Homo sapiens: one gene and its partner. The protein of the gene in region 1 purifies or fractionates together with the protein of each later gene. This does not show direct contact. Each region holds a gene or a part of one and is shown on either strand. Other genes may lie near its edges.

Evidence for each region. Proteins that work in one complex are often made in the same cells at the same time.
Region 2: the proteins of PEMT (region 1) and PADI3 purify together in Homo sapiens (affinity purification with mass spectrometry; one large-scale study listed by BioGRID and IntAct). This does not show direct contact.

The regions. Positions count from the first base shown.
Region 1 is NC_000017.11:17,511,709-17,515,208, reverse strand, and holds part of PEMT (phosphatidylethanolamine N-methyltransferase), read left to right. Parts: intron 1-2,554; coding exon 2,555-2,700; intron 2,701-3,500. UniProt on the Homo sapiens protein: Catalyzes the three sequential steps of the methylation pathway for the biosynthesis of phosphatidylcholine, a critical and essential component for membrane structure.
Region 2 is NC_000001.11:17,255,598-17,259,097, reverse strand, and holds part of PADI3 (protein-arginine deiminase type-3), read right to left. Parts: intron 1,853-3,500; exon of another isoform or gene 100-1,852; intron 1-99. UniProt on the Homo sapiens protein: Catalyzes the deimination of arginine residues of proteins.

The DNA of each region.
Region 1 (3,500 bases):
TGAATTCTGGCAGAGGAACCCTGAGCATGGGGTATGGACCCAGGCCTGGCTCGGGTCTCCGCAGGAGGGGGTAAGAGCGACAGAGTCTCCGTCCAGAGTGACCCTCCAGCGTCTCGGGCCTGGCCTCTGCGCCCACCCCCTATTGCAGCACCTGGATGGGTCTCCCTGGTTCTGCATTTTCCACAGCAGGCAGAGTGCATTCCAAACCCTGCCGGGCCGAGGCCTGCACCTTCCCTGCTCCATGCCCTGCCCCAGACTCTAAGGCACACCTCCCTGCTATTTCCTCTTTCTGGAATGCTCTCCCCTGTTCGCCCCTCCCAACCCCTGTCTGTTTTCTGGTCCCCACTGCAGTGGCAGCCAAGGAGCCAGATGCTTGCAGGGGAGCCATGCTCCTGAGCAGGGCCGGCACCCTTCCTTTCCCTCCCACTCCACCATCTGCAGGCAGGAGAGTGGAGGGTGCCAGGCAGGGGAGAAGGTGTGCCTGGATCGTGGCACCACACTGGGTGTGCATGTGGCCACCTGATTCCATGGCAGCCCGTGACCCTGAGCCAATCCCAGAGGCTCGGCCTGGAGCTGCGGGGTGACCCTGAGCCCGGGCAGCAGCAGGATCAGGGCAGGGCACTGGTGGGTGGAGAGCTGGGGGTATGGGCAGCATGACCGGCAGTGGGTTTGCCCTGACACCCGAATGCCGCTGTTTAACAGGTCGGTGTGCCCGCCTCTGCCACCGGGTCCTGGTGGCTTTGTCCACAGGCCCTTCTCCCTTTCTCCCTGGCTCCTTCTCTGCTCTTGGGGATGGGAGGAGAAGGAAGGAGCGGCTACTGCTTCTCTCCAGTCGATGAATATGCACTAAACATCCATTCTGTGGCCTGGGCCAAGTGCTGGGGGGATACGCAGGGAAGGAGGAGCAACTTCTGTTCCCCAAGAGCTCCCAGTCAAGCTGGAGGAAGGAGTTCCAGGGAGGCATAAAGACATGTCTGTATGTCCTTAGCTCAGCATAAGGAGTTTCACAACAATCTGAATTCACCAATGAATGGAACGAGTGGATGAAGATGGGGGCTTCAATCTGCTTGAAAGAGCCTAGCAAACAAAGATACTTCATGGTGGATGGATGGATGGTTGTGTGGGCAGATAGAGGATACATTGATGGATGGAAGGATGGATAGCTGGACAGATGGATGGATGTGTGGGTGCATAGAGGATAGATGGATGGAGGAAGGATGGGTGGTGGGGTGGATGGTAAGCTGGCCCTGCTGGGAGATGCCGTCTACAGACTGGGTGTGAAAGGCGCTGCCCTGCGTGAGGTAGCAGATCTCCATGTCTCTTCTGTGTTGTGATTATTGTGAGCATGGGAAGAGCACATTTGGTCACACATGTCCGTGCTCCCACACACAGCCTTTCCTGTGAGTGTGCCTCTCATCTAGCACCCAGGGCCCCCTTCCCACCAGCGCCCGCTCCCCTGTGATGAGGCCTGGGTACATCAGCACATGCCTAGCCCCTGTGCCCTCCCTGCACCAGCCCCTCAGTTCTCCGGAGCCAACTGGAGAACCTGAGCCTCTAGACCCACTGCTGTCATAGTCACCCCCTTTTGGTCACGCCACTGCCTTTTCTTTTTTTCTTTTTTCTTTTGATACTAAGTCTCGCTCTATTGCCCAGGCTGGAGTGCAGTGGTGTGCAAACTCCGCCTCCTGGGTTCAAGCGATTCTTGTGCCCCAGCCTCTCAAGTAGCTGGGATTCCAGGTGCCCACCACCACACCCAGCTAATTTTTGTATTTTGGGTAGAGACAGGGTTTCACCATGTTGGCCAGGCTGGTCTTGAACTCCTGACCTCAGGTGACCCGCCCACCTCGGCCTCCCAAAGTGCTGGGATTGCAGGCGTGAGCCACCACACCTGGACCCCACTACCTTTTTACAAGGCCTTCAGTGGTTTGGCCCCAAAGGGAGCCTAGTGGGGGAATTCAGGTGTGGAGGAGGACATTAAGGGCCCCCAAAGTGCCTTTAAATGCAAGTCAAGCCACCCAGGATGTGGCCAGACCCACAGGGGCTGTGGAAGCGCAATCCCTAGCACAGAGCATGCCCCAGGCCTCGGGGCACTGAGTCTGTTGGGGAATGGGACACCTGGGCCTGCCCTGCAACCTGGCACCTGCGTCTTTCCTGAGCCTCACTTTCCTCCATAGTATGAGTTGCTCATTGGACAGGATGAGAGTTTGCAAGCTGGTGGCCTTCGGGCTGAATCCAGCCTGCTCACATGCAGGGTCTAAAGTGGCTTTCATGAATTGTCTATTTCTAAAAATTAGGATATTTCACATACGAGTCAGGATTTCTGGCTTCTCTTGAAAAAATTTAAAAATCTGACAGGCCTGGGCCCCTCCCTGTTACTGTCACCCACCTCCCAGGTGGACTGGACCCCACCTGCTGCCTGCCTGGCCTGGCAGCCCTGGGCTGGCTACTCTCTAAGGGTCCCTGGGGAGAGGGCGAGAAGATGAGGTCGGCCTCCTCCCGGGCTGTGACATCCTCCCTGGCCATGACGTCCTCCCTCTCCATCCCCTGCCCACAGCTTCACGCAGGCCATGCTGAGCCAGCCCAGGATGGAGAGCCTGGACACCCCCGCGGCCTACAGCCTGGGCCTCGCGCTCCTGGGACTGGGCGTCGTGCTCGTGCTCTCCAGCTTCTTTGCACTGGGGTTCGCTGGAACTTTCCTAGGTAAGACCCTGAGGGCTGGGGTGACCCTGAGCAGGACCGCTGGAGCCCCAGGGAGGTGCAGGGCCAGGTGGCTGCTGCCCTGCTATCCGTGACATCGGTGGGAGTGCTAGGGGCCCCCTCCATCGGGGCGTCTTTGCTCCTCCAGGCCTGGCTTGTCTGTGGTTAGAACAGGAGGCTGGGCTCCAACAGCTCCTCTTACCCCAGCGTGCTGAGCGGCTGCCTCCTGGGGAGTGAAGGCAGCTCCTGCTGCTTCTCTCCAGCTAATGAAGATGCACTCAATGCCCGTTCTGCGGCCCGGGCTGGGTGCAGGACTCCTTGAGTCCAGCTCCAGCACCAGCTCCCCCTTGCAGAAGACTCTCAGGCCTTGTTGCACAGAAGCCTGAGGTGGTGGTGAGTCAGCCACCTCTCTGGCAGCTCCCGGCACGCGTGGCTCTCAGGCCAGGCAGGATTGTGGTTTGTGCCGTGTTTGGCCGCAGGCAGGGCTGGTGTAGGTCTGGGGAGGGGTGAGGGGTGGAGGCACCTTATCCCTTCTCCATTTCCCTCTGCCTGTGGCTGAGGTGCTTTCAGGCTGTGAGCCCAGTGCTGGCCTGGCTAGACGCCCACCAATGACCCTGATGATGGCAGCAACTTCCAGCTCCTTGGAATCTGGGAAAGAAAAGCAGCCATGGGAAAGGCAGTAGGGGTCGGGGTGGGAGGGGAGATGGGGGCAGGGGTGGGGGACAAGAGGGGGCCTTCGGAACCTGGAAGGAGAGAAGGAGGCAGTCCCTGTCCAAGGGGAGCCCCTCCCAGTGAGCAGGGAG
Region 2 (3,500 bases), on another chromosome or scaffold:
ACCCTGTTTCAAAACAAAACAAAAAAACATACACACAGTCTGATGTTCTAAGCCCCTGTGTTCATTAACATTTCCCTTGTGAGTTTCTTTACCACTCACCAGAATGGCGAGCTCTTCGGAAGTCAGAAGCCAGCCATGTGCTCGATAAATCCCCAGTGCAGGTCTGGGCACGAAGAGCTCAGTGAACACCAGCCATTGGTGGGTGGAGCCCCTTACAGTTCTGAGAGCTTTAAAAAGAGCAATTCTCACCCCAGATCCCATCACATGTCTCCTTAGTGGGTGGGAAGATATCCTTGAATTCTTCCCTGGGAAGGGAATTCAATCTGGTTGAGTGCCCGCTGCATGCCAGGCACCTGGCGCACGCAGCTCCCTCCACTCTTACAAGCTGTAAGGTGAGCAATATCATCCCCATTTGGCATATTAGCAACTGAGGCTCAAGGAGGCCTCGTGACAAGCCTGAGGTTGCATCACATGGCAGAGCCAGATGTGCAACAGGTCTGACTCCAAGCCCATGCTGTTCCACAGCTCTGCAGTGTCACCCGGGAAACTTGGCCGGATTTGGTCAAACAACCAGAAATTAATTGCAGGTTTAAAGTATCTGTGATGTTATCTGGCCCTGAGATTGCATTTCCCTCATTCCACCTAGCCTGGGGTTCCTCCTTGGAAACCAGACTATGCATCCTTTGACTGTGGGGTGCCCACTGTGCACTCAGGTACTGCCTGGCGGGCAGATCCACCCACTGCTCTCCCCACTGTTGATCCCGCTGGGGAGCTGAGGACCAACATTGTCCAGGGCAGCCAGATGGGGCTCAAGGCCACAGGATCACAGCTCAGTGGGAACCCATGTAGGGAGAGGCCACTGCGAGTTGGAGGGCCTCCTGGAGGCAGCGGCATGCATGCCCCTGGGGGATAACAGTGACTGACACTTACTGAGCTCATGCTGTGTGCCAGCCCATCATGCAATCCTCTCAATAACCCTAGAAGGGAGGCACTATCTATTATTGTCTCCCATTATACAGATGAGAAAGCCGAGGTTAAGTAACTTGCCCAAGGTCTGTGGCCGGGCTGGGATCCAAACCCAGCCATGTGGCTCCTCAGTCCACACTCTTGCCCACCACCTCCCCAGGAGTAATAATAACAACAATACCATAACATAAAAAGCCCCCAGCCTCTGCACTCTTATCACGGCAGGCCTGCCTAAGCCTTTTTGTACATTAGCTCATCTGATCCTCACTGCAGCCCCAGGATGAGATAATTACTCCTGTTTACACATGGGGAAACTGAGGCACAGGATACGTAGGGGACTACCCCAAATTTCCACAGCTGGCCACTCCCCCCGCTTCCCATCTTCCCTCAGAGTAAGGCAGACCTCCCCCAAAACAACCTCTTCACTCTTCCACCAACATGATTCTCTTACATCTCAAAGCAGCTTTTTTATGAAAAGGGAAATAAACCAAGCCCAAGCTTCTCTCCATCAGGCAGGTCCCACTCTGGTGTCTGGGCCCCTGTCAGGTGTCCTCACCAGTTGGGAGGGACAGACACACCTGTTTCTCCTCCTAAGCAGGGCTGCCAGACTTAGCAAATAAAAATACAGAAAGCTCAGTTGGACTTGAATTTCAAGTGAACAGTCAATCATTGTTTGGTACTCCCGTGAAGTATTTGGGATACACTTATACTAAAAAAATTATTAATTATTTACCTGAAATTCAATTTTAACTAGGCATCTTTTATTTTATCTGGCAACCCTACTCCCAAAGCCTGTAATTTCCAGGGCTGGTGGAGCCCTCTGGCCTGTTTGGCCCTGGGCAGCCCCCCACAGGGGAAATGGCAGAACCAGGGAGAGAGGCATGAAGACACAGAGACAGAGAGATAGGGACAGAGAGACTTGGAGAGACCCAGCGAGATGGAGAGTCAGAGACAGGGAGTCGGAAAGAGACACAGGAAGACAAACCCAGGTAGGAAGAGCAGCCTCTCATACCCTCGGGAACACCCTCAGCCACGCTCCTGAGGCACTCGCCTTCCATCTCCCAAGGAAGCCTTTTTTTTTTTTTTTTTTTTTTTTTTTTGAGACAGAGTCTTGCTCTGTCGCCCAGGCTGGAGTGCAGTGGTGCAATCTTGGCTCACTGCAACCTCCACCTCCCGGGTTCAAGCAATTCTCATGCCTCAGCCTCCCAAGCAGCTGGGACAACACAGCCCACCACCGTGTCCGGCTAATTTTTGTATTTTCAGTAGAAACAGGGTTTCACCATATTGGCCAGACTGGTCTTGAACTCCTGACCTCAAGTGATCCGCCTGCCTCAGCCTCCCAGCTGGGATTACAGGCGCGAGCCACCGCGCCTGGCTGAAGCCTGTACACTTTTTATGGAACTCCCTCAACCCCAAAGCTGTTCCTTGGGCCTCCAGTGTCCATGGGCAAGGGCTGAGCGCCCTTGATGGTCCTTCTGGTATGAAAACCCCACTCAGTCCCCAGGCTCCAGCCCCTGGGTGTAGGGTGTTTCAGCCCAGCGCCCCTGCCTCTCCATGTGCCAGGCTCTGTGTGAGATGCTGGGGGATCCCCAGTGAAGACTGAAGCACCCCTGCCCAGGAGGGTCCCCAGGACCACGGTCTGAACAAGGGCTTAGCACAGGTGAACAAGCTACATCTGAGGTTGGGGAAGGGAGGGGCTGCAAGCCGAGGGCTCAGGTGGTGCTGGGACCAGAGTCAAGAATTAGGTTTTAGACCAGGCTGGGTCACACATCGGCCAGCTGAGCTTGACTAAATCACTTAGTCTCTCTGGGCCCATTAACCTCACCTTAAAGTGGGATAATGACACCTACTTGGCCAACCTCATGGGCAATCATGAAACTCAAGTGTGATAATAGACAGGAAAGGCTTGCAACACCATTGGCCCAGGACAGGGAAGGAGTTATTAAAGTAAATGAGGGTGCAGGAAACGGGTCTGGAGGCAGGATGAGACAGTGGGCTGGGTGGCTGGGGCAGGTTCCCCAGGGAAGGCACCAAGAGGAGACACAAGTGAGGGGAAGGTGTTTTCACCGTGGAACCTTAAGAGGTCTAGTTTAGACTCAGGCTATAATGAGCTTGTTTTCATTTCATCCCTATGTAATGGGGAGCCAGCGCTGGTTCTTGATCAGGAGGGGCAACATGATGGAGCCGTGGCAAGGTACTTGAGCCTGTGGTCCCTGGGGCCAGACAACTGGGTTCAAATCCCAGTCCCACCACTCATTAGGTGTGTGACTTTGAGCGAGTGACTGCCTCCCTCAGCCGCAGCATCGACATCTATCTGGTGGGGATGAGGAGAAGATGAAAGGAACCAGTGTGGGTAAAGCACTCAGGATGAGCAAAAGTCATGCCCTCATTTCACTGATGGGGAAACTGAGGCCCAGAAGATAAGTGACTAGAAGGTAGGGCTGCTGACTTCCAGTCCAGTGCTCATGCCTGTCATGAAAGCTGTGTGTTAGGAGAATGAGAGGGGCAGCTGCTGGGAGGAGAACCTGCATCAG